2 separate regions of the Homo sapiens genome follow, and region 2 is linked to region 1. Evidence: fine-mapped QTL for protein levels in blood plasma. A gene starts in region 1. The other region holds a variant in brackets. All regions are shown on one strand. Distances are from middle to middle. Region 1 holds the start of F3 (coagulation factor III, tissue factor). Region 2 overlaps LOC105378861 (a long non-coding RNA gene).

The links. PIP is the chance, under the fine-mapping model, that this variant and not a neighbour inherited with it causes the effect. Protein levels are from antibody-based Olink assays in UK Biobank. Linkage for the fine-mapping came from a reference panel and not from the study's own genotypes, which makes the PIPs less certain.
Region 2: its variant is fine-mapped to the plasma level of the F3 protein (UK Biobank, PIP above 0.99).

Annotation. Positions count from the first base shown.
Region 1 is chr1:94,532,795-94,548,443 of GRCh38, forward strand. It overlaps F3 (coagulation factor III, tissue factor), which reads right to left and starts at 8,965. Exons shown (of 6, transcript NM_001993.5): 1 at 8,743-8,965; 2 at 7,463-7,574; 3 at 3,171-3,370; 4 at 296-474. The coding sequence starts at 8,842. It overlaps MIR12133 (microRNA 12133), which reads left to right and starts at 10,908; the gene lies at 10,908-10,985. It overlaps LOC124904223 (a long non-coding RNA gene), which reads left to right and starts at 9,180. Exons shown (of 2, transcript XR_007066234.1): 1 at 9,180-14,078. RefSeq lists a silencer at 8,885-9,164.
Region 2 is chr1:94,599,598-94,615,246 of GRCh38, forward strand. All of the region lies in intron 1 of LOC105378861 (a long non-coding RNA gene), which reads left to right. Among named protein-coding and RNA genes, the nearest start is that of MIR12133, 64 kb to the left of the region's middle. RefSeq lists enhancers at 5,798-6,997, 8,913-9,413, 9,414-9,914. The variant T/A (reference allele first, on the strand shown) is at 8,780.

The DNA.
Region 1 (15,649 bases):
AATAGAGGGAGAAATGTGAGCATGGCGGGACCTTTAGAGATGACCTGATCCAGCCGGTTGGCTGAGGAACCTGGGTCTCCGAGGGGGCCCTGCCCAGAGTCACAGGGTAGTGCAGAGTCACAGGTAGGACCAGGCCTGTTGTCCACCCCTCCCCACAGTGCGCGCTCCCCCTTCTACTCCATCACCTTCTCAACAACTCTGTTCTGCTATTTTTGAATTGGGGAAGAAATGGGTTGTAAAACCCAAGTATTCACAATTTAAAACAGGTCATAAAAACAAATTAAAAAATGCTCACCTTTCCTGAACTTGAAGATTTCCAATAATAAAGTGTATAAATTAAGTCCTTGCCAAAAACATCCCGGAGGCTTAGGAAAGTGTTGTTCCTTCTGACTAAAGTCCGTTCATCTTCTACGGTCACATTCACTTTTGTTCCCACCTGTTCAAAACTCTGAATTGTTGGCTGTCCGAGGTTTGCTGAAACAAAGGAAATGAGCTTGGTTGGAACCAAAGAATTCTGTACAAAGTCAAATCCTGTTTTGTTATCACAATTGACAACTTAATTATCTCTCATATAAAACATGTGCATAGAACCAGCTCCCTGAAAGAAGCAGGCGTGGCGGCCTGGAGCTGAATCCTAAGACATTCTGTGGTAGTGCTGGCCCAAGGGGAAGACAATGGAGCCTCAGATGTCATTTTAAGTTTTCTAGTAGTCACATTAGAAAAAGTAAAAAGGAACAGGTGAAATTAATTTTAATAATATATTTTATTTAACCAAAGACAGTTGACCCCTGAACAACATGGGTTTGAACTCTGTGGATCCACTTGTATGCAAATTTTTTTAAATAAAAGTTACACCAAGTGTGCCGCCTCCTACTTCCTCCATCTTTTCTCCTGCCGTGGCCCCTGCTCTTCCTCCTCCTCCTCCTCCTCAGCCTACTCAACATGAAGATGACGAGGATGAACACCTTTATGATGATCCACTTCCACTTTATCAATAGTAAATATATTTTCTCTTCCTTATAATTCTTTCTCTTCCTTCCTTCTTTCTTTTCTTTTCTTTTCTTTTTTTTCTTTCTTTCCCTTTCTTTTTTAGACAGAGTCTCGCTCTGTCACCCAGGCCGGAGTGCAGTGGCGCAATCTCAGTTCACTGCAACCTCCTCCACCTGGGTTGAAGTGATTCTCCTGCCTCAGCCTCCCAAGTAGCTGGGATTACAGGCACCCACAACCACGCCTGGCTAATTTTTGTATTTTTAGTAGAGATGGGGTTTCACCATGTTGGCCAGGCTGGTCTTGAACTCCTGACCTCAAGTGATCCACCCGCCTTAGCATCCCAAAGTTCTGAGATTACAGGCACGAGCCACCATGCCCAGCCTCTTTTCCTTATAATTTTCTTAATAACATTTTCTTTCCTCTAGCTTACTTTATTGTAAGAATACAGTATATAATACACGCAACATGAAAAATGTGTGTTAATTGACTGTTTATCTTATTGGTAAGGCTGCAGTCAACAGTCAACCGATAGGTAGGCTATTAGTAGTTAAGTTTTTGGGGAGTCAAGTTATACTCGGATTTTCAACTGCACAGGGAGTCGGTGCCTCTCAGCCATGCATTGCTTGAGTCAACTGCATATATCTGGAATATAATCATTTTAATGTGTAATCAATATAAAAAAGTTTTGAGATATTCTACACTTCTTAAATTCCAGTGTGTACTTTATACTTAGAGCATTAGCCATATTTCAAGTGGTCAACAGCCACATGTGGCTAGTGGCTACTATACTGAACAGGGTGGTAGCATAAACTACGATATTTTAGGTTCAAAAATATGTAGGGCTGTGAGAAAGCCCAGGAAATGTCCTTGGTACCTCGAGAAGCCGGATTTAACCACGGGGTCTCTGCAATGGCTCAATTATCTCATGTGCTTTGGTTAAATGACAGGAAAACAAACATCAATTCACAGGCCAAATATGTGTGTGCACATGCAAAACAAACACATAAAATATCTTCTATCTTGCACCAACAAAGGATTTGAAGTAGCTTACAAAAAAACTCAAGAACTATTAATATAAAAGAGAATCATGAGGATGCCATTAATTAGGGGGGAAATGAATGTCAACCATGCCACAGTCACCAGAGGGGCTGCTGACGCTGCTACATTCTTGCCTGGTGCCACAAAAGACACAAGCAGAAGCACCTGGGGGTCTGGAGGGTCTTGCAAATGGGGGCTCTGGGAAGGCAGCCACATTCACCTGGGGTCAGGCCCCCTATTTCAACCCTCAAAGTAGATACCAGAGGAGGATGGTTGGTTGGTTGTCCGTCCACCCCTTCTTTTCACCATTCCTACCTTGAGAAACTGTTCTCTCTCGCTGGGCCTAACACTCACACAACACCTTCATTCTAACCAGCTGGCCTTACAAGAGAAGCTAATTTCACTCTACTCAATGTGCTACATGCATTTATCTAAATTGCCTAGCTCAGAGCCACAGTTGCGGCAAAAGAATAAATCTCCTACTTGACAGGAATTCTCTTCATTCTTTTACTGGCTCCTAGGGCCAGCTTACAGGGGCAAAGGCTGAGGAGGAAAGTATTCCACCTTTCCAAAACCAGAACGAGGGTGACAGGCAGATGGCTGGGCAGGTGCTGGCACATCACGGAACTCAAATCATGGCCAACTGATTAGAAAAGGTCAGCATAATTAGGCTAATTATGGGCTCAGAGGGAAACCATGGACTTTCCTCATTGATTTATGACCGTTTGGGAAAAATCCTCAACTGGGATTTTTAGTGTGATAACGGGACAGAAAAATCAGGATACATGATATATATATAGGGAAAAGCTAAAACCCCGGCCTTGGTGGATTTCCTATCCCTACCCGCTTCCCTGGCCCGCCCTCTCCCAACACACATTCAGCCGGTTACTGAGGACAGTAACAGGGTCTGGGGACAGACTGGGGGAGAAAGTTACTTGATGACACTGTCATCAGCTCCAAAGTTCACATTCTGTGAACCTCCTACCACATCTGGAATGTGTGAAGAGGGCTGTGATACATACCAGTTTCTGAGAAAAAAAGAATAAATATTTTTAATTTTGTAGCCCCTAAAGGCACAAGATCACGAGAATGTTCAGACGTTTCTAACAAGAATGAACGGTATTACAGCCCAAGCCACTTACTCTCCAGGTAAGGTGTGAACTCTGGGGAGTTCTCATACAGAGGCTCCCCAGCAGAACCGGTGCTCTCCACATTCCCTGCCGGGTAGGAGAAGACCCGTGCCAAGTACGTCTGCTTCACATCCTTCACAATCTCGTCGGTGAGGTCACACTCTGTGTCTGTTGTGTAAAAGCATTTGCTTTTCCAATCTCCTGACTTAGTGCTAAAGAAAGAAAAGAAGGAAGAAACATAAATGGAATGTTACAATTTGCACCCAACAAGATAGACTGCTTCCTGGCTGTGGTGTTCTGTGCTAACATCAGGAGCCCTACAATCAATCCTAATGATGCAGTCACTGTGCTGAGCACTTTGCTTTTTTTTAAACATTGTTTTGTAGAGATGGGGTCCTGCTATGTTGCCCAGGCTGATCCTTCTGCTTCGGCCTCCCAAAGTGCTGAATGTACAGGTGTGAGCCATCATACCTAGCAACACCGAGCACTTGGGATGCATGTTTGAGTCCTCATAGCAACCCAGGGGATGGCTCTGTAATTTGCCTTGTTTTTACAAATAAGGCTACTGAGACAAAGTGAGATTGGGTGACTAGCTCAAAATCACACAGCTGGACTTTGAACCAGACAGCTATTTGACTCTTGGATCTGTACTCAACCATTTTGTTAAATATCTTTCTTTTAGAATGTAGACGCTCTCTGTCAGGGTAACAGGAGAGAAAGAGCAGTTTTCCATCAAGATGAGGCAACTGAGACAAAGTGAGGTTGTTTACTATAGTCTACTTATTATAGTTGTTTGTTATATAATGTTCTATATTCTATGTAGAATAGAGTCTATATAGTGAGTCTACATAATAACATGTTATACATATATTCTCTCATGACCACTATTAATAATATTATTAATCATTCATTGACTCCACTATATGCCAGGTATTCTGCTGGACCCTTTACTCATGTTACTTCATTTGATATAATCCTTCCAAGAAGGTGTTGGATCTTTCTTATCCATGAGGACACTGAAGCTCACAGGCACTAAGCAACTTGCAGAAGGTCACATATCTAACGAGTGGCAGAGCTGGGTCTGTTTGCCCCATTATACTACATGCCTCCCTTCCTTTGCAAGATGTGAATCCATCCCAACAAAGATTACAGAATAAGAGTACAGGTAGTATCTGTCTAATAAAGTCTGAGACTAAAAAGCTAAAGACAGATCTTTCTTTTGTGAGACGTCACTGAAGGGGAAATGATTTAAAGGACTTCTACTGACAATGAAATTCTTCTAAATGACCAAAATAATAAATAGGTGAAGCGTCACTGCAACTTGATTCACACACTTCTGTCCCATGGAAAGTGACAGTTATGCTGCTCTTCCCTTTGGCATTACTGACTGCCAGAGCCAGACCCATCGTTCAAGGCCAGGTCCCAACTCCACCTGCTCCAGGAATCTCCAGATCTCCCTGCTGAGCATTTACATCTCCCTCCCCTGTCCCCCAGCATGAGTTTCTCCACGATGCTGTTAATATGAACACAGTCTGCCTGGTACGAGGGCTGCATGCCCTTGTGTGCCCCCATTAAGCAGCAGGGCTATAGGGTCTCGCTGACTATTAGATGGTTTGCATTTACAGGTTGAATTAATACATAATCTCAGGGAAAACGAGGCACCACATGGATTCCATTGTCTAAATTCACACATAAAAGCCACAAATATATTTTCTTTCAAAATCTGAACTAAGTAACCAGGCCAAAAGGATTTGGGTAAACACATTCTTTATCCTAAAGTGCACAAACTAAGATTGATACTGAAATATTTTGGTTTCTATTTATTTAATTTTATGTGATAAAAGTAGAGAGGGTATTTTGTTCCCGAATGACCAAAATGTGTTTTATTTTATCATTTCCATTTCAAAAAGTGAATGAGACTATGCTGTTTCCTTTTTATCAGTACAGCAAATAGTTGTTCAGATAACAGGAGAAAGTCTCCTAGGGCTTTCTATGTAACATAGAGATACAGTATTTGGTTCCTCCCAGCTCACAGCAGGGACCACATACTCTATAGCAAAATTTAGCACAAGGATTTATACAGTACCCTGGTAAGTAGTAAAACTGTATAAACAGGTAATGAAGGGACAATTCTGTAGAAAATCCCTCTGAATGCCATTAATAGCATTAACACTTTAAAAGCCTCCAAGGTTCCTCCAGGCATTGCAAAACCCTCTGATTTGGAATTTTGAGTTAACTAAAAAATTCAGTCACTAATTTGGTTGCAGGTTGTTTTCCAGAAGCTTTGTAAATTCAGCTTTAGAATTCAGAACATTTCCATGGAATGAATATCACCGGTGACGGTTTGTGCTAAGGCTTAAGCCAATAACATTTCCCAACCACCACTGAAAACTGTTAGCAAAGGTGAAAAATGCAGTTGGAGTTCCAAGTAGGGGCTTCTGCACAGCAGTAGTGTCCTGCGGCTGGAGCCAGGCTGCAGTAGTGAGAGCAGTCGGGAGGGAAGAGGGGCAGCTGCTTAAGATGCTAACTGTAGGGAGGGAAAACAGGCAGAGAGGAAGGCCAACTGAGGAGATGCAGTGGGCAAGACTTTCCTTCTTCCTCCCGCTTTGGAGCCTCCCATCAGACTGTGGCAGAGCCACCTGAGGGATGGTGGTGTGTGGATACTGGGTAGACTTTGGTTCCAGACCTGACATGGGCACTCACCATCAGTGTAGTCATGAATAAATCCCTCACTTCTCAGAGCAACAGTTTCCTCAACTGTAAAATGACTGCTCTGGTCCTTTTTAACCAGGAATCTCATTTATTCCTGGGGTGGGCAGGAGAAGAGTGCACACCTCAGGCCGAGGCTGATGGAAAAGCTCCCAGGCCCTCCAGTACAGCAGCAAGAGATTGTTCAGTCCATAGGACCACCCTGAGTCGGCTGGCATCCCCCAAGCTGTAGCCCTGCGCTCTGCTGTTTGCAGATCAGGAGCTGTGCTCATTTAAATAACAGCAGCCTTATAAAGTTCAAGAACTTACAGTTAACAAAGGCTTATGTTTAAAAAGCAGATGAATCATAAATATATTCCCATGTGTCCCTCAAATATTAGATTGAATATATTTAGGAGGTAAGCATTCCTCCCAAAATCTAATTTTTACCATATGGAAGTAAAGTGTTTACTAAGGTAAACTTCAGGCCTGTATCAGAGAAATTACTTACTAATTCTCAATTGGTGAAATCTGAATTGACAAGTTTGACCAGAACTGTAATCATTATTTCATGTTATGAAATTCCTTCATCTTTCTCTCCCCCCACCCCCATACATATCCACACATGCATGCACGTATGCATGCAAGTTCTCCTTGCTGGTTTGGCAACTACTGTCATGAAGTTCATTTTGAAAAACAAGAACATTCACTTAAAAGATGCATCGTTATCTAGAAGTTGCATTCCTAATGCTGTAAAAGGCCTGGCACAAGCTAAAACAAAACAGAACAGCAAAATACCTTTTGTTTTAGCTAGTGCTACTTTTGTACTTTTATGTAATTAGCATTAAAATAATTTCCACAGCAGCTATTCTCTATTTCATAAGATCTCTACCAAGCCTCCTAGAACATTTCAAAAACCAAAAACTTGCCAAGAATATGGTGAAAACCATCAAGGAAGTCATAACCTTTAGATTGAACATGCTGAATTATCGCCTCCTGGGGACAGCTGCCAGTCAGAGTTGAGGCACCAAGAAGCAGAGCCACACCAGACCCAGAGGGTGCAGACAGCAGAGTATTTCTGCTCTGCCAGGCTCAGTGAGTCACGCATTTGGCCTCCTCCACTAAGATCATGTATTCTACCAGATTTCGATTCATGGAGTCCAAAGATGAATGAATCAAACACTGCTTAAGGGCAATGTATACATTGGGATTCCTCCCCACCTCTTCCCTAAGGTGTTAGACATTGTTCACAGTCTAGACAGCAACAGAAAAAGACATCAATGTTTAGATGAGATTAATTAATCTATCATGACCCAAAGCACACTTCAGTGCCTACTCAAGATGGTTCATCTCTCCACAGTTTATACTCCACTTAGGAACTCTCCCATCATTTCCAAAAACAATTAAAACAATTAAAATGTTCTATCAGTTTAAGGTCTGGAAATGTTGCAGGCCTAATAGAGTATGACACCGGCCAGCGAATTGCCAAGAATCCCTTCTTCTTCGTCATCTGTTAAATAATTTCATCCAGTAATCAGCTTTAAAGACATTCTTGTTCAGCATAGGACAGTAGAAACATCAAAGACCTTAATTTTCTTTTTCTGTACCCAGCTTACCTTATTTGAACAGTGTAGACTTGATTGACGGGTTTGGGTTCCCACTCCAAAATTGTCTTGAAATTAGTTGATTTCCAAGTTAAATTATATGCTGCCACAGTATTTGTAGTGCCTTTAAACAACAGAGAAACAGCTATTATTACATGCACTTCAGAGCACTCGAATGTATTGATGTATAAAACACCTTCCCACCTGACATCACCATAAACCTCACTTTTTATTTTTCAACCACAAAAGCTTCATTAGTGAATTATCAAGAGAAAAAGAATCTTCAAATTTTTTCTAGACCTAGAATTTCTTCATGACAAGATTCACCTTGTAATCCCAGGACACCGGCAAGGATCTTGACATTTTCGTTTGAAATTATTCATGGGCAAAGCCTTGTTATAACTTGACCGGGAAGAGCCCAGAGCCATCAGTGTGCCAGTCCAGGACTCAGCTCAGGAAGAGTCAGGTTCAGCCCGCCAGGAAGGGTTTTCAGTAAGTTATGGAAAAAGATAAATCCCACACGTGTGACAAGAGTTAGGACTGCATACAAATGAAAAAAGCCAAACTTCACTTTTTCCACTTTTATCTGAAATGTCGCTACACTGAAACTTCCACAGAGACCCACGGGGACGTGTGGCCTGTCACACCGTCGGCTGTATTGGATCAGGATTATTTCTTATGAAGGTCTGCTTTGCCAGTACGCAGCAGGTCCCAGTCTCTACGCCGTCCCGAACACCTCGTAGAAATACGGGGCATGCACAACGTTGTACCTGCTCCAATCTAAGCAGCAATCCAGCCCTTTTGGATTGCCTCTACCCAAACCTAGAACAAAGATGGCCAGGAAAAGACCAGGGACGCTCTTTATTAAGGGAAGATGCACATATAATGAAAGATAATATCCAAACCTCTGCACGCCAACACGTGCAGACGCAGGCACAAGTCCTATCATATTGAAGGTCGCAACTCACTGGGAAGCCCTTTCCCCAGAGTTAAAGCGGGAGCTAAAAGTCCGCTTATGCAACAACAGTCCAATTACTCGGACACCCCGAGCAAAACTCTCCAGCGGAAGGGGCAGCGGGGTCTGGGGCGCCAACTCCCTCCCTGCAACTCCCGCCGGCGCCCGACGGACTCGGTTCATTCAAGCCGGGCTGGGTGAGCGCAGCCGAGTCCCGTAGGCGCGGGGGACAACATGGGCGCCCCGGGGAACCAGGGCGAGCCCGCTGCCAGCCAGGACTGTCGCCTCCCTCCTGCGTGTGGCGCGCCCCGGGCTTCCAGGGGCTGGTGCCACTCACCTGAAGCGCCGGCCACCTGGGCGAAGACCCAGCCGAGCAGGAGCGTCCGAGCGACGGCGGTCTCGGGGCGCGGGACCCGGGGCCAGGCAGGGGTCTCCATGTCTACCAGTTGGCGGCGAGATCGAGCGGGTTCCGTGGCGCCCGTGGGGCTGGGGAGGTTGGGCTGAAGGCGCCCTGGGCCGGCCAGAGGGAGTGCGAGGGGGTGCGGGGAGCTCGCAGTCTTGGGGAGCCGGTGCCCCGCGCGCTATAAAGGGCCGGCGGCGCGCTCTCCCGCGCCTCTGCCCGCCCCCGGCGCCCGCCCCCGCCGCTCCTCCCGACTCCCCGCCCCCGGCCCGGGTCACTTGCCGTCGCGGTGGGCGGCCCCCGGCGAGTCCACACCCCTGCCCCGCCTCCTCCCGGTAGGAAACTCCGGGACCCTGCAAGGGATGACTCACCCCAGTGATTCAACCGCGCCACCGAGCGCGGAGCTGCCCTGGAGGACGCAGGCGGGTCTAGTTGCCCGGGTCCCCCAAGGCCCCCGGATTCACCCAGGCCCGCGACTCCGACGTGCAGCTTAGGTGGGTTGCAGGTCTATGGCAGGAAAGGGAGGGCGCCTTGGAAGAATTCTTCCCTTCCATTTGGTGATAAAGTGGGAGAGGCGGCATTTACAACATTTAATAGAAAGCACGGGCTCTGGGCTCCCCTCGGGCAGCGGAGGGCATTTCCCGGATGCTTTGCCCACCTGGGGCAGAAGCTCGGGACCTGCAGCGAAGTAAACGTGTGGCTGTGAGCAGGGCCCTCTCCCAGCCACGGTGGCTTCTTCTACCCCACGAAGGTCAAGAATACCTGGCCTGCCCACCTCGCGGGGCCCTTAGCGGGTCGCACAGGAGAAAGGCGGTGGGAATGCCGGTGTCAGCCACGGTGTGACCGGCTCGGCTCACAGGTCTGAGGGTCAGTTGGCTCAGGCATCGCCCGGTACGACCAGAGATAGTGACTGAGGAAGAGCAGCCTCACATCTGGCAGTTTGCCTCTGGGAGAATTCCAGCGTGACATCTGCAGCTCTGTGGTTCCAGAAAGGATGGTTCCCACATTGAAGAAGACATCTGTGGGACTGAGTTCCACCGAAATGCAGAGGAACCAAAAATGAAAATGAAAAATGTAACCAGAGTTGTGTGCCACTAGTTTTAAGCTTTGGTTTTTCTAAATTATTTTCTGGCTTCTCCTTCTGGGCTTTGCTGTAAACTTGCCAAGCATGAGAACAACTCTTCATCTATTGAGTGGCATTTTAAGCCATCCTGTCAAAGTATCTCCTGTCATTTTTATTATTATTACTCTATATTGCCTGCAAGACACGACTGGAGAATTCTTAGTGTAAGAATTGTTTGTTTCCTCTCTCCTTCTTTCCCACGTTTTCCCAGGGAAGTCAGTCTTGCATTTTAATGCATACTATATACATATCTCGTTTAGCTTACTGAACCACTTGTTTTAACAGAATAAAACTGTGCAAAATTTTAATTTTCCTCCTTTGCCTGAACTGAAATAGCACATCCAGGTTTAGCCCTTGTAGACTTTCCTTCCTCGAAGCAGAAAGTTGCCCTTGATGATTTCCTCTTTGAGCTCTCTGCCAGCTCTGAAACCCACAAAATTTATGTTTGCAAAACTAAGCCATGCAATCCTCTTTTTATGCAGGCTCTAGCCTGAGTCATTTTCCCTAAGAGATCTTCAGCTCCACCTGGGATGTGATTCTTTGCTCTCTGGGATTGAAGGTAGCTGAAGAGAAATAGTTACACTTCAGGTTTGTTACAAGACCCAAGAAATTGTTGCAATTCCACTTGGAGTCACTGACTTTTCTGAAATCATATAGGGCTTTAAACAATGTCAAGATCAGCCATTTGATAAGAAAAATGTTTACCATTGGATTGTGATACACAATGTGCCTTAAATATTGATAAATTAGATGAATATTTATTTTGTATATCCATTAAAATAGACAGGAAAGAGAAGATGTTGGGTGTTTGCACAGGCTTTTTAGTCAGTACGGAATGACATTCTTCAAGATTTAAAAATGCTAAAATCATTACTATTTTCAAGAAGAGGGAGGAAGAAAACGTGGTAAATAATATTTCATTGCGAAGTGTTTTTCCCTGACTGATCTAATTGTGGCCAGATCTACTTTTTGACGGTGCGAAGTGTACTTTTTAATGGTGCCAAACAGCAGTTGATCTATAATAACTGCTGCTTGGCACCATTAAAAAGTACATATCTAAAATTTCACTGTTGAAATTTGTTCACAAGAACAAATTGACTGTTAAAATTATTCCCTAACCTTAACACAATTTTTTTTACTCCTGTCAGTAAAGTCAAGCTTAGCAGTTAACAGTTCCCTCCTCCATGATCTATCTTGGAGGCTCTGAGAAGTTCAAAAAGTTACTAAACTATAACAATAATCTCTCTGGCTTGACCAGTCCCTTTCTCATTGGATTTTAGGATGTCAGAGGATGGGAGAACCTCACAGACATTCTTTTATGGATGAGAACCCTGTGGCCAGCTGATCTGAGTAAACTGGCTTGCCTAACCACACAGTGCAGATCTGGTCTTCTGACCCCGGGGGCTTTCCTTCCATCACCAGGCTTTCTCCTACTCCCAATGAAGGAAAGTAAGACTGGGTGGTAAATCCATCAAATGAATGATTAATTAATCCATCCATAAGCACTCAAAAATGTTCTGCATGTACACAAAGTGCAGAAAAGTGCAAAACTGCACAAAAACTGCACACAAAGTATAGAAAATACTTTGCAGTTTGGGGAACTCATTGTTCTTAGGCAGAAATATCCTGATGGTTAGTCCTTGAAATAGACAGACAAGGAGACACGTAGAAGAGTTTGAATTCCCTTTGCATAACCAGTGATGAAATGTGGTTGATGAGAAGTCTGAAAATAACTGCGGAGATGTTTCAGCCCTTCCACTGTACTTTTATAGTACTTGCTGCCAATTTTACCGACTCATTTTCATTGAGAACTTCACTTAATCTCACTTGTGTGTTTACCTGTTAATCTTTCCTGTTGGATTGGGTTTTTTGTCTGTTTTTTTCCTCTCTCAACCCTTTCCACAATTATCAGCACATAATAGGCACTTAATACCTTTTGAGTCAATGAATACTTTATAAAACTATGAGTGCAACCAAATATTTCACTGGTGTTCAAGAGATGAAATCTGTCACTGAAAACTCTTTCTAGGGGCCAGGCAGTGAGTGTTTCATGATGCTGAGATTGGTAAGAAAATACAAATCCATCATGACTGGAAAGGCACCACTCGACCGCAAGTTCTAGCAGTCTAACCAGTGATTAGCTATCTCTGCACCACCAGAAAATCTCACCAGGAGGAGAGATAGCTGAGAAGCAGAAACCAGATACAGAAGTTTGGAAACTAGCTAGCATTTTTTTAAAAGACTGGATTCTACGATGATTCAGAATATACTTCATCATGCGATGAGGTTGTTGATAGTTTTCCTTGCATACAGAGGCTGAATAACTTTTTAAAACAAATTCCTCAAAATGTTTATTTCCCAGGAAAGAGATAGGTTAAGATACATGATAGCAAGTAAAATTGAGAATAATTCAGAGAAACTTATTTTATGCATATGAAATGGTAAAAAGAGCAATGAAACCATTACCCAAAATTCAGGTAAAAGGCAAAGTATGAGAAAAGGCCAGAGGGAATTAGGAGTTAGTAGGAACACAGAGTTCTGGAGGAAAAGGAAAAAAGTGACTCAGCAGAACCTAAGAAACATCTGGCTGGGTATAGTTAGTCATGGAAAAATTGGCAGTCATGATTATGCATTTTGTGAAAATAGCAATATACTAGTCCAACAGTTCATTTAGACCAAAATTAAACAGTTGAAAGTCAGTATGATAAAATCTATTATCCTGGTCATTCAAAATACTTCTATCAACTGTCTAGAACAGCTTACAAGAAGCTTTGCTAAATGAGTTATCACATAGCACCAGTATTCTGAAAAATGTAACTTTAGAGAAAAACCTTCCAATTCAAGTCTTAGACTGGGATTGGTATTTTCAGCAGACATCTATTTTTATAAACGTAAAGCTTATCAAACTACCTTTCAACTTTCATTTTGATGAACAGTAAATATTATTTTATTATCTACATACAATGGTGACAAAATAGATAAATAATAAATATGAATTGTGGGTATTATTTTAGTAACAAAAAGTCATTTAAAATGAAAACCCTTAACCTATGTTCTTATTAATATAATATTTATGTGATTTAAAATTTTGTATATGGTATCATTTACTTAAGCATCTCTTAATTCCTCATTTCTGTAACTCTTTATACCTGACATATGTACTAAATTTGATGAACAGAAATTCATTCATTCAACAAATGCTTGAATGTCCACCAGATACTGGGTTCTTTGCTAGACTCTGGATGTACAGAGTAAAACAAAGAAGTCCCTTTCCTGTTAAACATATCATCATTCCTACTTATGTCCAGATTTTATGTTTGTTTGTTTGTTTTTTGAGACAGAGTTTCGCTCTTGTTGCCCCAGGCTGGAGTGCAATGGCACAATCTCGGCTCACTGCAACTCCACCTCCCAGGTTCAAAGCAATTCTCCTGCCTCAGCCTCCTGAGTAACTGGGATTACAGGCATGTGCCACCATGCCCAGCTAATTTTGTATTTTTAGTACATACAGGTTTATCTATGTTGGTCAGGCTGGTCTCAAACTCCCGACCTCAGGTGATCCGCCTGCCTCTGCCCCCCAAAGTGCCGGGATTACAGGTGTGAACCACCATGCCCGGCAGATTTTATGGTTTGAATGATTTTCTGTCAGCATTTGAATTGGATATAAAACAATCTTAACAGTGTTGTTTATTTACAAATTTCATTCTGTCCTCCCCCCAAAAAGATTTAGGTGTGTCATGATCAGTTCATCAAATAGGTATCTTTAACTCAGAAAATGACTTACAGGTTTAAAATATACATTCTCTATCAGTTTGAACGTATTGATGAACTCTCAAAGTTTTGAATATGGAAAAAATATATGAAGCTCAACAAGAAAGACAGCTTTATAAAAAGGCAAGTCTAGCAGAAAAGATAACCAAGTAGGAGGAGATTCCTCACGTAAGGAAAAAAACAAGTAAAATAATCAGCTTAAAAGCATGTGTGCAAGATATTTCATTGTTATTTTTATGTTTGTTTGTTGACATTTTATAGCCTAGTTAACAGATGCTCCAAATTTTGAGCCTGTAACCCTTCCAATCCCTTGCTGCCTTTGATGGTGATGCTCCATCCTATTATACCAACTCCACATTGAAGCAGAACTCTCAAGACAGAGGTAATTCCTTAGTAAGCAAAGTTATTTTTCACACTGGAAACATGTTTGTTTGACTGGTTGTAATTGTCATCCTAAACCATCATTACCCTTTATGTTACAACATTTTAGCATCTCACAGTTCTAAATCAACTACTTCTATTCTCACAGTTCTAAATCAAATACTTCTATTCCTTGCCATAAGGGGAATAACAGGTTGCTTTAGCGTCATTGTTTGTGCCCCCTCACACCCACCCAGCAAATCCGTATGTTGAAATCCTCACCTCCAATGTGATGGTGTTAGGAGGCGGAGCCATAAGTAGATGATCTGGTCGAGGATGGAGCCTTTGTGAATGGGGTTAGTGCCCTTATAAAAGAGCTTCATCTTCCTTTCTGCCATGTGAGGACATAGCAAGAAGACGGTTCGGGAAGCTGAACCAAACCTGCTCGAAACTTGATCTTGGACTTCCCAGCCTCCAGAACTGTGAGAAATAAATTTATGTTTGTTTAAGCCAGTTGGACTATGGTATTTTTTGTTATGGCAGCCTGAATGGACTAAGATACAGGACATATACTATGGAGACAGCTATTAAAATGACCAATTTAGAGCGATTGATCTTAGACCTGCACCTTATTTTAAGAATAGTGTTTACTTTTCATCTCCAATCACAATGGATTTGTTAACCAAGATCCTGCCTTATATGGGTTAATCAATACTTATTAAGGGATTACTATGCACAGGACAGTATACCAGGAACTGTGAGTCCCTTTGGTAAAATATCTCGTAACTAGTCAGGAAGACGAGACAAATACTTAAGCTTCCACAGGGGAAAGTGGTACGAATGATGTGGGATATAGTGTCACATCTCTTGCTAGTAGATTGAAAGCCCTGTGCTGGAAGAGACTGCTCTATCTTTACAGGTAGCTACAGTGCTAGCAACAGTGCCTGGCACACAGTAGGTCCTCCGTATTCAGAAAGCTTTGCTTAAAGATACAGAAGATGTTCAGGACCTCTACAGAGAGAGTTTGGTTCTCACTGGGGTGATGAGAGAAGGTTCCCTAGAGGAAAGTATTATTTAAGCTGTGGCTTAGTCCATTTAGTCTGCTCTAACAAAATACCTTAGACTGGGTAATTTATAAGTAACAGAAATAACAGTTCTGGCAGCTGGGAAGTCCAAGATGAAGGCACTGGAAGATTCGGTGTCTGGCAAGGGCTCACTCTTTGATTCGTAGCCGGAAACTTGTTGTTGTATCTCCATGGCAGAAGGGACAAGGCAGCTCCATTTAACTTCCTTTATAAGGGCACAAATCCCATGCATGAGAGCAGGGCCTCATGCATCACTGCCTAAAAGGCCCCACCTCTTAATACGATCACATTGGGCATTAGGTTCCAATGTATGAATTTTAGGAGGAAACCAACATCAGACCATAACAAGCTGGACCACAGAGGAACAGCAGAGAGGAGGAGGAGAGTTTTAGTAAGAAAGAGGAGGTCATGGCCTCTAAGAGTGAGCAGAAAACCAGTTACAGGCAGACTCTGGAGATAATGAAGATTCAATTCCAGACCATGGCAATAAACCAAGTATCACAAGAAA
Region 2 (15,649 bases), 67 kb after region 1:
AGGAGCCTGGAGGACTCAGCTAACTGCCTGAATCTTCACTGCCACCTGGCTTTAGCCAGTGGTCACTGGTACTGAAGCCTGTTGCAGCCTGCAAGCCGGAGCGGAGAGGAAAAATTTCAAAGTCAGTGTTGAAATCATCAGGAGGAGTAAAAAGTAGAGCCATTTTTATTTCTTTCCAGGTCCCTGACCTCAGTTTCTCTTTGAGAGTGGTGGATTTGTGGTTCAGCTAATATTTAGTGAGCATCTACTTTATGCAAGACCCCAGATAGGCCCGAGGCAATACAGACTTGAGTGGACAGGGTCCTACTTTCAGGATCATAGATGTGTACACAGATAACTCTACGGCAAGGCCCCGGAAAAGGTAAAGTGAGGTGGGCAATCAGCCTAGGGGGTTGGGGGAACATTCAGGAAACAGAAGGCATTTGAGCTTGGCTTGGAGGAGCAGTTGGAATAGTGATTAGAGTAACTTGGGGAAATGGTCAAAGGGCACCCCAAAGAAAGAAAAGAAGAGCAGAAAGGGCCTGAGAAAAAGTAATTAACGTAGAACCATTGGAGTTTATGGAGGCTGTGTGGTGTGTGTGTGTAGTGTGTATGTGCATGTTTTTAGAATGGACATGGGCATGGAGATGGGGTGGAATGAGATGAGAGAAAAAACTGGGAAAGTAGTTTGAAGTAGCTCGCAGCAGGCTGTACATGCTAGAATAAGAACCCCAGGCTTTATTATGTAGAAAGGAGAAAGTCATCAAAAAATTTTGAAAGGGGGTAACATAATAGGCTTCCCTTTCTGTCATATATATATATATATATATATACATATTTTTTTTAATATAAAGCAGCAGACATTCTCTAAGAGGGCCAAACACCAACACAAGTCACAATAGAGAGGGCTTATTATCGGCATTTTCAGTTTTCCATTTACAGACATTCTATAGTTAGATGATGACAAATTTCCATGGGAAAAGCTCAAAGTGTGGAATGAGCATAGTTCTGTTCCCATCTGAATAGGTTGTCACTAGCCAAGGTCACTGGGGAGGAGGCTCTAGAGACTTGTCCAGATACAGCTTCTCTCTCTGTGGGTTAGACTTAGCCTGACTCCCCAGGAGCAGGGCAGCCTCACCTGAATGGTAGCTGAGCAGGGCACTGAGCAGGGAGGGACAAGAGCTTCCTCTGCCCAAGCCCAGGGCACCTGGAAAGCCAGCCTCCTCTCCTGGAGGAAAGGAGGAGATTGAGAGGGTGACCCGGGGTGGTGGACAACTGCATCCCTCATGTTCTCTGCCACTTCCACCTACACTGTTGCAGTGTCTGAGAAACTTATCAGAACAAGTTCTCCTGTCCATTAAATAGCATTTAATCCTCCGAGGAGCCTTAAGAATTGGGAATATGCTACATTTTACTCTGGAAAATATGTTTAGTTTTTTGGTACTCACTGAAAACCTGGTGCATGGGAGACTGAAAAAAATAAAATGATGTTTTATGCACATGAAAGCAGCAAGTTATGTCAGTTACTTCATCTGTTACCAAGGATTTGGGAATTTTAGAGGCTCACTGGGTAAAAGCAGACTTTATTTTCATTTCCTAGACTGAAACAATATAGGGTTGTGAGAAGTTTAACTGTAATTTTTTTGTCATTGTTTAAAGCTGCAACTTTGAACATTGTGCTGAAACTTAGATCTGAGAGATCAGCAGATCTATATAGTAGCATCTGATTTGTCAGGGATCATCAGGGGATGAGGCATTTCAGAGAAATAAAATATTCCAGTATTTAAATCATATCTCTTGAGGGTCTTAATGTTTGTGTTAATCATTTTTTGATGTAAGAGTTTCCCAAATCTCCAGCTAACCCACTGCCTTGTGAAACAAGAATGCAGTATCAGATCCCATTTGCCCTGCTGATTTAAGAGCATTTGTATGAAAGCCAGTTATCAGATCATTCTGATGCACTGCCCTCTGAGGCTACCAAAACTTGTTGGGTGTTTACCCCTGTCTTCAGCGGACCCATTTGTCATCATCCTATAATTCTGTTAGCCATAAGTACCCCCAGTATATTTTCCTGGGCAAGAATGTGGTATTTCTGTCTGGTGTTGGCATTAGAGGATCTCCATCCGAGTGACAGTTGGGTTTGTTTAGGCTTGCTTTGATTAGCCTTGCTTGCTTGTAATGTGAAGTCCAAAGATCAGAATTCAAGTTCCATTTCTTTCTCTTCTCCTTGTATGATCTTGGACAAGTTATCAGCCCCTCTATACCTGGGTTTGCCCGCTAACAAAAATGGTCATAATAATACCCAGCCCAGGGCTGAGAATGAAGCTGTATCATAAATACAATGTGTTATACAAATGGTAGTTCATTTCACTACAAAATACCTGCTCATGCCCAACTTCACCTTAGGCATATAATTGATCAGGAGTGAGTTGTTGAGAGCACTTCTGAGTTTTAAATAACATGGAGAGGGGCTGTTTATTGAAGGGATAACTGTGGCAGATGCAGCAGGAAGGCTCTAAGGGGAAAGCGTCTCCCCTAAATTTCCTATTATGCAACTTAGTGTCCAGAACACTGTGGTGGTTGAGAATCAGGGTTCAGCAGAATATGCAAATTGCCTTTCCTTTCATCAGGACACAAAGAAAGAAATGAGCCCCCAAAATATCTCTCAGAAGTGACATGGGTTTATCATTTCCATTATCCTTGACACTTTTCAGGGGTTAAATGTCTCTGGCTAGGCGCATGTTATTATTTGAGTATTACTAGCCCTTTAAGAGCCTCGACACTTCTGGAAAGCAGCCCGTGGAGCTGCTTCAGCACCGAGTGGGTCTGAGCTACAAGAGGGTGACCGCTAATCCTAATTCTAACCCCAACCTGAATTTATGAGGTCCTGCTGGTACGCAGAGGGAGGACTGGAGGGACCAGTCAGGTTGGCCAGCTGGCCCAGTGGTATAGGGAGCCGTTGGATTGGGGTTTGTCACATAAACTGGGACCCTGCCCAAAGCCGAGACGTCGTAAGATTCCCCTGTTTTGCACAACCCTGTGGTAGTAGCCACATCCTTATTGTGTAAACTCAGGTTTAACCACAGAACAACCAGCTTATGCCTTGTTAGATGAGGAGGAGCTTAACCCACTGAAGAGTACTTTCTTTTAATAAGGAGAGACAACTTCAAAAAAAATTGTTTTAGGGGCCCCCAAAATTTCAGATGAGGACACTATGAAGATTTTGAGTCTTGCAAGCTGTGTGATTAAAATGATCAAGTGATTAAAATGCTGTTTTAATGCTATTATAAAATGGTATTTTAGTTTGGACACATCCTTAGAAAGACTCCTTCCGCAGAAAAACTGACGCAGCAATTTGTAGAGGGAACTCACAGGTGTTCCATGAACTGAATCACTACATGGGGGATTTTTAAAAGCTGGATTGGGGGAGCAGTGGATGGTAGAATGAATCCTTTATCTTGAAGATATAGCAAAAGTAAATACAAATTATACAGCTTGTAAGATTAATGCTTTTGAATCATAAAAAATAAACACAAAATTCTTGTGGCTTAGTTGCATAAAGATAAGCAATTCAAAGTCCATATCTTTAATGATAGCCTTTTTTCTGTCGTAAGTAAAGACTGCATCAAGGAATTAATGCAAACACATTTCTGCCTACCATCCTTATATTTCTCCTTTCTTGCTAAAATTACCTACTTCACAGGATGTGAGAATTAAATGAGATATGTGTCACTTTGTTTAGCACCAAAGAAACACTAAATAAGTATTGTCAAGTTGAAATCTGAATAGTGCTTTTCTTCTTCTCCCTGTCTTCCTTCTCCTTTTCCCATCCTCACCTGCTTTCTTGGTGCTTACTGAGAACTGACTGTGTCCCCTGGACTGGGGCAGAGGTGGCCCTGCTCTCCAGGAGCTTTGCTTATTCACTTACTCAACCAGTATTTATTGAACTCCAACTTGTACCAGTCTGTCTTCCAGCCCTGAAGACTCAGTGTTGAGGATGAAAAAGTCCCTGTTTACATCCAAGGGTTAATACACCAATACATTAATCAATCCATAGTATAACCTTGAGTACTATTAAGCGCTACAAAGAAAGACAAAGAAGGCTAAAGGGATGGAGAATGGTGGAAGTGAGTTGGAGGCTATTTTACATGGATACATCAAGAAAGCCTCTCTGGAGAAAGTGGCATTTGGGCAGAGTCCTGAATGAGGTGAGGAGGTGGCCCATGAGAGGATCCAGGCAGAGGATGAGGCAGGGGCACAGGAAACAGCATGTGCAAAGGCCCTGAGGTGAGCACAAGCTTGGCATGGTCTCAGGAAAACAAAAAGATCAGAAGGGTATGGTCTCAGGAAAACAAAAATATAGTGAGCTGGGAGAAGGTTGTCACACAGGAGCCTGGAGGCATGGGGTGAGGAGAAGATCACATAGGGCCTCATGGGGCATGCTATGAAGTTTGTTCAGATTGTATTCCAGGATTGATGGGAAGCTATTGGAGAGTTTTGAGTCCTTATATTGTTTATGTGCTTTAAAAGGATCACTTTAGCCACTGGAGAATACAGAAGAGCAAGAGCAGAGGCCCCAACCAGGGGGCTAGTATAGGGACGGAGAGGCAGTATAACACAGTGGGGAAGCCTCCAGGGCCAGACTGCCAGGGTTTGAAGCATGTCTGCCATTGATGAGCAGCATGAGCATGGACAAGTTAAATAACTCACCTGCACTTCACTTCTCTCATCTATAAAATGGAGATGTAATAGGGTTACCACATTGTACAACTCCAGAATCTCCCCCTGGAGTCCGACGAGTGCAGCGTGCACAGTGCCACTCAGAGCTGTGCAATGCAGCGGTCTCCATCATGAGTCCTACCTTGTTGTGTTACCATGAAGATTAAGGCATAACACACATGTAAAGTGTGTAGAACAATGCCTGGTACCCAAGAATATCTCAAAAATATCTGTTATTATTCGTAGCTGAGGTGAGAGATGATGGTAAGTGGATTAAAGTCGTTACAGTGGGGGTGTTGAAAAGTGATAAAATTTGAAATGAAATTTGAAGAAAGAGCTTGTGCTGGTTCCCAGGGCACAACCACTAATGATGATGGAATTCAGAAGCACATCCTTGCCAGGACTTCTAGGTGGGTTTCTTAGTATGATTCTATTTTGGAGCTGAATTTCTCAGAATCTTCCCCACCAGGATGTTTTCCACCTAAAACAATGAGTGGATGTAGTACATATTTTATAGAGTGATTATGAGATTTAAACAGGATCTTGCATGTAAATACCCTAACTTAGTGCCTAGTACATTGTAAGTTTCAATGACCGTTAGCTATCATCGTCATCATCATCTGAGCAGCTCAATGTTTCTGCTTAATGCAGGCACATACCTACAACTCCACAGAAGAGAGATAGCAGCAGTTTTCCCCTCTTGTGAGGAGAGCTAAAGAGAACAGAAGCATTTGGGAATTAAGGTCCTGAGGCCATAGTGTCCCTAAAGGAGGCCTGTTGTTGTGCCCTCAGACACCCTCCATGGCCCTCAAAAGGCCTGGATAAGAACCAGCCCAACCAGGAAGAGAAGCACCGGAACCTAAATAAAGACATAGGATTCAAAAGGCATGATTCACCTTTATTTCATTGGGTTTACCACTTACAGAGCCCAAGTCAACCATGTAAAGCTATGAAATTTATGTTCTATTCCTTTTCCTGACCCGCTTGGCCCTAATGAACCTCAAACACAAATACTGGAGGTGGCAAGGGGACCTCGGCAGGCCCAAGAGCTGCAGATACCCAACTCCTCCCAGGCCCTCCTCAACACCACCCCGCTCTGCTCTGCCCCACTGATGCCAGGTCCTGGTATCATTGCTGTCTGACTACTCACACACCATGAGGTAGCGTCCCTGCTTTTTTTTTTTTTTTTTTCCTGAGACAGAGTCTCGCTCTGTCACCCAGGCTGGAGTGCAGTGGCGCGATCTCGGCTCACTGCAAGCTCCGCCTCCTGGGTTCATGCTATTCTCCTGCCTCAGCCTCCCGAGTAGCTGGGACTACAGGTGCCCACCACCACACTCGGCTAATTTTTTTTGTATTTTTAGCAGAGACAGGGTTTCTCATGTTAGCCAGGATGGTCTTGATCTCCTGACCTCGTGATCCACCCGCCTCGGCCTCCCAAAGTGCTGGGATTACAGGCGTGAGCCACCGAGCCCGGCCGGCAACCCTGTTTTATTTGTTCTTGGATGTATGAACCATATAATTCCTTCTTCAAAAGTCATAAAGGCGAGACTCCAGCCAACAATTCCACATAAAAAGAGAGCGCCATTTTCTCGCTCTCAGGCTTGGTAATGATTCCTGCTGTGAGGCAGTCATTACGGAAATGACTCAGTCTTTCTCTCCTGTGTTAATAAGATTTTACTGTCTTTGGTCCTGACTCAAACTGGCTGAGAGCAATGTGGGGATCACAGAAGCTGTACCAGAGTGTGTCACTATGTAACTTTTCTTAACTTACCAAAATACCATGTGGATAGGAGCCATTCCAGCCCATCGCCTTGCTTCCGAGTTGGCTGTAGTCTTAGCCGGGTTCACACAATGGGCATCTGCTAATCTCTTTCCTTACCTGCCAGGAAGTTGAGGCCAAAGTTCTGTTTTCTCTCTAAAGGCTAATCAAGCTGTAAAGACGGTTAGTGGGCTGAGCTCAAAATAAGGCACCTGAGCTCTCTTTGCATCTCTAACATCCACAACACTAAGCTTCTTCCTGGGGTCCCAGTGTGATAACTGACCCAGGCCCAGATGGCAAACGAAAGCTATTAGGGTGACTGTGGAAACTTCTGTGTCTTCTTCTTGGTTGAAATTATCCTTCTGGAGCACATCTGGAGATCCTGGCCATTTAGAAGCCATCCAGGAGCCATTCATTTATTTGACAGACATTATTGATCACCTACAATCCAATGCCAAACAGCACTAGGCATTGAGTACAGAAAGACAAAAGGCACAGCTTCTAATGTCAGGGACCTCAAGGTGTCATGTAGGGGACTGATGAGAAAGTGAACAATGTGAGTCATATGGTTAGTGCTATAAAATATTCTGGGTGCTACAGAGGCGTTCAAGGAGTACTGACCACACTGGTGGTCAAGAAAGATTTCCTAAAGGAAGACACACTTAGATGACCTGAAGGGTGCACCGGCGCCCTCTAATCAGAGAAAGGCGAGGAAGGAAGCAGAGGGACATTTCTAAAGAGAGAGGGAACAGCACATGCAACAAAGCTGGCTAGCTGTGACCACTAACATCCATTTCCTCCTTCCTGGTCAAATAGCTAGGTGATACCTCCCAGCCTCCCTTTCAGTTGAGGATGCTACGAGACTGCATTCTGGCCAATGGGAGGTGTGCAGAGACACTGGGTGTTCTGGCCTACAAGATCCTCTCGTGTGTTCTCTGTGTGCTTCCCTACCTCAGCTAATTGGGAACAGATAGAAATCAGATCACAAAGGGCTTGTGTGCTGCCTGAAGGAACTCCATGTTACGGTGCTGGTAAGAAGCAAATGAGCACAACAAAGTGACCATACTTAGTGTTTAGAAAAATGGAGGTGGCAGGATATTAGGGACAGGTTAAACTTTACCTGAGCTTAAGAAATCCCCTACCTTTTTGTTTTCCAAAACACCCCCATCCTTTTGTGTTCCATGGCAAAATCTCAAAGGACCATCCTGCCCTCCAATATTTCAAGTAAGACCTGCCTCCATCCTTTCTAGAGATTCCTGTGAGATTCCTTTGTTCACCTGCCTGTGTAAAGCCCCGGGGCCCCTTCCTTTTCTTTGAGACATTCTCCTTTCATGAACATTCTCCCTATTGCAATACCCTGAATAAAACCATCTCCTTGATGGTCTGGTGCATTTGGTCTTTCACATGAGCACTGGATGAGGAGTCAAATCTTCTAAGTGAAATTCTGCTTCTACTTGAGAGTAGACTTCCACCTTGCTTTATTTTGCTTTGTTTTGTTTCGAGACAAGGTCTTGCTCTATCAGCCAGGCTGGAGTGCAGTTTTGTGATCATGACTCATTGAAGCCTCAGGCTCAGGTGATCCTCCCACCTCAGCCTCCTGAGTAGCTGGAACTACAGGCACGTACCACCATGCCTGGCTAATACTTTTTTTTTTTTTAATTTTCATAGAGACAGGGTCTCGCTATGTTGCCCAGGATGATCTTGAACTCTTGGGCCCAAGTAATTCACCCGTCTTGTCCTCCCAAAGTGCTAGGATTACAGGACGTTGACTCCCAACATCCTTGGCCTCTGCTTTATTTTTCTTCAACACATCTTATTGCATATTATTTATCATCAGTCCTCCATTAGAATATAAACTCCTTGAGGAATGGGCTTGCCTTCTTGACCACTGCATGTCCAGGGCCTAGCACAACTCCTGGCATGTAGCAGGTGCTCAATTATTAGGACAAATCATGGCTTGGTGACCTGATCCCAGACCGCCTGAGCTTTCTACCACCCTCCCTCGGCACCTCTGACCTTTCTTGCTCTCCATTGTTTCTCTCCCTCTTTCTCTGTGTTCCTGTCTGTCTCTTTTGCTCTAATCTCTCTCTGCCTGCCTCTCCCCCTTCCTCTTTGTGGATCTCTTTCTTAATCCCTCCCTTCTTGTTTTCCCCCGTCTCCTCCTTGGGCCTTGGGCCTGCAGTTCCCTCTTAGCCCTTCAGCTCTTACTTTTCAGCCAGGTTGTTTATCGGGAGGATATGGACCCAGGTGACAGAGCACCAGCTGTGGAATAAGGAATGACCCAACCCCATCTGTGTTTGTATCTGTTGAGTCATACAACTT[T/A]AGCACCTTCGGACATTCGTCTGCTCACAGGCTCCTTGAAAGTTAAAGATTTACCCAGAACTGGCCAAGTCCATGTTTTGGTAACAATCAACAAAGTGATCTATAAGCCTTGCTCCAAGCAGATTGCTGAGTGCTGAGAAGGAAAAAAGAACCCGGGTGAGAGGCCCCTGCCTTTCAGGAGCTTCCAGTCTAGTTAGCCAAGGAGGTGAGGCCCACACACAGTCTTACAGGAAACAGAGAACAAAGACAGGTAGAATTTGGGGTGTAGGCTGTGTAAACCAATGGGTCTGGAAAGGACCGGCCATTGCTAACTTTGGAACTTCGAGACACGTGGTCTGTGTGTGAATGATGAAGCAGGGATCAGGGCTTCGACTGCAGACAGGAAAGCAAGAAGTGAGGGTCAGTGAGTTGCAGTGTTCTGCTGGTAACTGCAAGGCTCTTTCGGCCACTGTGGCCCAAGCTTGCCTGAGGGGCCTCCTCTCTTATCAAGGCCCCACACTGTGTCCTTCTCATCCCATCATCGAACTGAGTTAAGGTGCAGGACTCGGTGAATGGAGATTTCCTCAGAACACAGAGTTAGAGCTGATGAGCTGGGCAGCCAGGTGTGGCTGCACAGAGGCGCATAAGCAGTTGTGTCCTGGAGCTGCAGGCCTGATCTAAGTTTCTTCATGTGGAGACTGCATCTCAGTGTATCTGGAGTGAACTCTCCCTCTGGTTTCTTAATAGCTATCCGCTGAATTGATTGAGATAGTAGGAAATTGTCTGAAAATCTTAATGAATAAACCCTGCAGTATGGCTGATGCCTTTTCCTCTGCAGGCTCAGAAAGTTGCCCACAGGAAAGTACAGCTCTGAGACACAGTGGGAGGTGGGTGGCCAGGTTGAGCTGAGAGCAGAAAACAGAAGGTGGTGACTTCGTGCTGGTTGTGGAAACTCCAGGCTGATGGCGATCCATCCAGTGTGAAACTTGTTTATACTGACACAAAGCTGAAGAGCACTTGGCATTCCTTTAGTTACTGCTTTTATAAACAGAGGGGCCTGAAACTTCCTGGGAAATGCTGGGAGCATCGTACGGCCTCCTAAGGTGGCTCTTTGTGGTTCTATAACTCTGGGGAGGCAGGGGAGGGAACGCATACTTTCCTGAGCCCTGGCTCATTTATAAATGTGGCGGGTGAGGTGGCAGAAATGAGTAAACTGAGTAAATGTTCCTCCCAGAGGATGATTCTTGGAGCAAAAAGGGATTTGAGGGTGGAAGGAAGCGATTAGCAGAAAGGGGTGTGGGGGTGCGCACGGGGCATCTCCCAAGTTCCTTCAGGAGGCGAGCTCTCATCTTACAGTCTTGTTGACTCCTGTCCTTGCTCCCATCTAACCTTGCCCAAAATACACACCAAAAACCAAATCCCCCCAGGAAGGCCGGTTCGTTTAGTCACCCCTTCCTTATCGCTGACGGTCTCCTTGCTCACATTTCACTCCCATTGCTGACTCAGGTTTGTCTTAAAAACTGCAGTTTTTGCACCTTGGGAAGATAATTTTATAACCCCACACCTGCTCTCTAGGTCTGGTCTGTGTGCTGTTAGAGTTGGTGTGTCTATGTCAGAGATACCAACAACATTTGAAGCCATAGTTCATGGCCTGGGTTAATGGATATTTAGGGCAAAGGCCCCAGTTCCACATTCGGATCTCCCTCCCCCACCAATTAGTATATTTAGGAAATATTTAAATGGCAACTCAGCAATGATCAACTCGATTTACTTCTGTTTCTTTATTTTAAAAAATAGGATTATCCAGGTTCCACATTTCAGTATTAAGATGCCTTAAGTTATTGAAATTTCAATTGTAATAAAGTAATAAAATGAGTCCTGGAGGCACGGGAGTGAAAAGGGGCTAATATCTCTAATATTTGTTAACCATTCACCTGCTCTGCCAGGCATCATGGGTGCTTTGCACATGACTTCTTAATCCACCTAGAAATGAGGTGTCAAGAAAGTGTGATTTACTCTCATTTCAGTTGAAGGAAGTACGGCTAAGTGGCATGTGCAAGTTCACACAGCCAATAGAAAATGCAATCGGGACCAGAAGCCACATTTGCAGGACTTCAAAGCCAAGGTTCTTCCTACCACAAAACCAGGATGCCCTCCTCTGCCACTGGAGTCTGCTGGACCAACCAGCAGCACAGGCAATGGCTATTGCTTTTGGTTATAGCATCAACGCAATCTATCTAAGTTGTGTTTTTGTTTTTTTGTTTTTTTTTTTTTGAGAGGGAGTCTCACTCTGTTGCCCAGGCTGGAGTGCAGTGGTGCGATCTTGGCTCACTGCAATCTCCACCTCCCAGGTTCAAGCGATTTTCCTGCCTCAGCCTCTGCAACAGCTGGGACTACAAGCGCGTGCCACCACGTCGGGCTAAATTTTTTTTTTTTTTTTTGTATTTTTAGTAGAGACAAAGTTTCACCATGTTGGCCAGGCTGGTCTCAAATTCCTGACCTCGTGATCTGCCCACCTCAGCCTCCCAAAGTGCTGGGATTACAGGTGTGAGCCACCATGCCTGGCCCAATCTATCTAAGTTTTTCTGTGGAAAAGTAGAATTATCTGCTGAATAATAAAACACCTTTTAGATAAAATTGCATTATGGTTTTCAAACTTCTTGAATCCATATTATTTATTTCTTACCACAATCCTATAGATATCATTATTAGGGATTATGGTGAGCACCTGCTCACCATATTTTTACCAGCCCAGCATCCACTTCTTTTTCTTATGGCACCAACAGATCACTGCCCTTAGAGGATCACTCTTCCTCCATCCTCAGTCCATGTGATTTGCCTAGGGCTGACCCCAGTGACTGGCTCTAGGAGTCTAGACCCAAACCCGACCAATGAGGGCACTGATCTCTGATTGGTTTAGGGGTGAGCATGGCCATGTTGACCAACAAAGGAAATGAGCATCAGCTCCCGACCTTTTGCAGAAACAATAAGACATTGGAGCTTTCCTCCTGGTGGTGGTGCAAAGCTGGCAGGAAGTGCTGGTCGCTGTCTTTGCCTAACTTGGGGAGAGCTGGTCTGAGAATGGAGGTAAATCCAGAGGAGAGCTGAGCTAAAGAGAGGGAGGAGACAGGTCCCCGATGACATTGTCTGGCACCCAAATACAGCAGTGCTCAAAGTCCAGTCTCTCCTGGACTTCTTAGCTCATTAAACTAAGAAAATTTGCCTTTGTTTAAGCTGGTTAGAGTTGAATTTCTGTCACTTTGTTTTATATTATTCAAATTATTGCTCTCTACTGGCAAGGGAAATTTGGTTGAGATCACTGTTTTTCTTCACAAATATATAAATTTGGAAAGGACACTTTGTTTCTTATAAACGGTTACAGCCTGCAAGGTGGCCATCTGCAGGCTGGGAAGTGTAGCCTCTGGCAAAGACCGAAGACAGGCACTTTGAAGGAGGAAGGTTTGGACAGGAATTTAAGCTGAATGGGTTGGCCAAGTACACATATTCAACAGGTTATAAGAGGAGCCATGAATATTCATGAAGGCGGTCCTGACGCATGCATATTGAACAAGCATGCATGTAACATACAACCCGTGTTCACCTAGGGGTGAAGACTTAACATTTAAATGTGTTACAATTAGGCCTTTAATGTCAAAGGTCTTTTTAGGATGCAAAGGCACTCAAATGTGCATCCTCTGTAAACTGGCCAGAGTCAGTCAATGGTTGGTGGTCTTCTTATCAGGAGAAAGTTACTGAAATCAGTCTCTTGTCCAATCAAAGCTGTAGTGATGGCTTGTGGAACAGGGGGTCAGTTAGTGCATGGCAGTGGCTGCAAATTGTTTTACTATTGCTTATCTCGAGGCCAGTGCTTGTTTAACTGCTAGAGAAAAAGGTAAACCTTGTGGCAGAGAACACAGTTTATTCTTTAGGTGTAGAGGTGAGTGACTCAACCCTTGTCTGGCATGGCTCTAGGTCCTGTTTATAATTTAGTATTTTATTGCCACAAAGAGTCTGTTCTGTCAGTCTTATGAGCTCAATTTTAACATTAATGCTGCTCAGTTCTTTCTAACCCATAAAAGGGAGGGGGCATAATGAGGCGTATCTGATCTCCTGTCAAGGCTCAGTTTTTAACATTTTCTGAGGCCTCCTTGGACAAGAGGGAGTCCATTCCGTCAGTTGGGGAACTTAGGATTTTATTTTTAGTTTATAGTTTCATCTTTCCCAACCTTCTTGGCCATTTATGAGTTGTGGATTCTGGGGATACAAGAAGCAGCCAGTCCCAGAGATGTTTCTTATTTTGTCATAGGGTGGTGGAGTGGGTTGCTGATAACACAAGGCATTATGAGCTAAAGTTGAAATCCACTTTCACTTTCCCTGCCTTCTCAATTTTTCTCTCATTTGAAAGGGTGTCAGAGAGCCAGAGAAACTGAAAGAATTAGGAAGAAGAGGGGAGAGGTGGTGTTTGGGGACACTGTTGGAAGGGAGACAGGACCTGCATGTGCAATGCACATTAGGCAATATTAAATGTGACTCTAGGCATTTGGTGAGAGGTCAGAAATGAAAATGCAGTTTTAGGCAACCTAGATAAAAGTGAGAGGTGAAAGGTCAAGTTTCAGGAGTCTATGTGTTAGAGTCATGTGAACCAGAGCAACTCCATCTTAAATAAGAGCTGGGTAAAATGAGGCTGAAAACTACTGGGCTGCATTCTCAGATGGTTAAGGCATTCTAAGTCACAGGATGAGATAGGAGGTCAGCGCAAAATAGAAGTCATAAAGACCTTGCTGTTAAAACAGGTCACAGTAAACGAGCCGGCCAAAACCCACCGAAACCAAAATGGCGACGAGAGTGACCTCTGGTCGTCCTCACTGCTGCACTCCCACCAGCGCCATGACAGTTTGCAAATGCCATGGCAACATCAGGAAGGTACCCTATATGGTCTAAAAAGGGGAGGCATAAATAATCCACCCCTTGTTTAGCATATCATCAAAAAATAACCATAAAAATGGGCAACCAGCAGCCCTTGGGGCTGCTCTGTCTATGGAGTAGCCATTCTTTTATTCCTTTGCTTTTGTAATAAACTTGCTTTCATTTTGCACTGCGGACTCACCCTGAATTCTTTCTTGCGTGAGATCCAAGAACCCTCTCTTGGGATCTGGATCGGGACCCCTTTCCTGTAACATATGCAAGGAAAGAAATGCAGAGGAATGGAACTGAGCCATGGAACAGACATTTGGGGTTGGGCAGGAGGAGTTAGCAGAGAGATCTGCATAGCTCTTATCCTACTTAGCACTAGTGCTGTTCAAGGTAGAACTCACAGCATAAGAATTCACTCTGAAACATAGAATAGGGTGTCTTTAGGTATATACGTATACATCAATATTCAGAAAATGCAGACTCTTAAGATTATAAAATCTGCTGTTCTTCCATAATTTATTCATTTCTTTTGCAGTTGAAGAAAATGTGTTTAGGGCAAGTTACCGTTGGCATGTTTGACCATAATAAATAGTTTGAGTTTTTAAAATAATTTCAGAATGTCTAAGAATTAAATATTTTTTCTGTGTACTTTAGTATATGTGAAATTTAGGGTCAAAACATCACAAAACGCCCTCCAAATGACAAGACCAAAATATTATTTTAGATCAGAGCCTTGTCAACCTTTAGTGTACACTACAGTCTTTTGATTATTTTGAGAAGTCTGTAGTCTTGAAAGCATATCGTATGAGAAGATAGATACTGATATAGAACTGCTAATGGAAACTTGTATGTAAGAATTTTGTTTTTTCTGGCTTCATAGAGCAAACCCTTGTTTACATAGAATAAGAGAGAAAAAAGAGGCAAGAGGATACATTACATTTCTAAGTTAAGTGCAAGCATCCTGGATATTGTAACAGACTGGGAGTTGTATTAGAGTCTATTTGATTCTCAAAGCATTTCGCGGCCTTTCATTAGGCAGCACCCTGCCTTCCACGTCACAGGCTGTCACAGACACTTGTTGAGGATGATGCTGGTGACGTCATCAGTCCTTTTTCAGCAAAGTCTCCTGAAAATAAAGCTCAGATTGGCTGTGCACATCTCTGGACCTAGTCCAGAGTCAAGCACCACTGAGGGCAGGGACCTGCCCAGGGGTGCTGCTGACGTTTGAGATGGAGTGGTTCTTCACAGCACAGAAGTGTTCCATCACTGTGGGACATTTAATATCCCTGCCCTCTTCACTAGATGTTTGCAACACTCCCCAATCATTGCGATAACCGTGACACCATGGTTAACCCTACATTACCAAATACCCTCTAAGAGATTCCGCTTTCTCTTCTTAGTCAGTAACCAGTAGAAGATTGCCCCTTTGGTTCTGAAGATGTTAGCTATGGGAACCTCAAAGGCTTAGGAAACTGCCAACACCTGAGATCTAACTTGATCTAACCTTAACCCACCATCTATTTCTGCCATGACCATGCTACTTTCATCCTTTATAATTGCCAGGCAGAAATAACAAATACTTTGGGATATTGTTGTTCATGACCACTATCCACCCCAGACTTTCCTATCAAATCACATGCAAGTGCTTTAAACCTGCTGCATTAGAATTAAGGCTTTGAGTTATTCACTGAGAAGGAAAAGTTCCAGAAGTTCAGAAACTTAGGAAGCAGTGTGGAGCCCAAGAGACCCAGAGAGCAGCAGTTCTTCTTTAGAGCACATGCAGCTTCTGAGATTCTTCTTCTGGCTGTGCATGTTGAGGAAAAGATGATCCCTTGGCTTCTGCAATCGCCTTTGCACTTGCTCCTTCCTCTGAAGAGCTCACCAGGAAGTCTCTCTGGGCGCCTTCTCCGCACTCCAGACTTCCCACACTCAGCAGCACCTCCACCCTGACCCTGCCTCCTTCCAACTAAGTCGTTT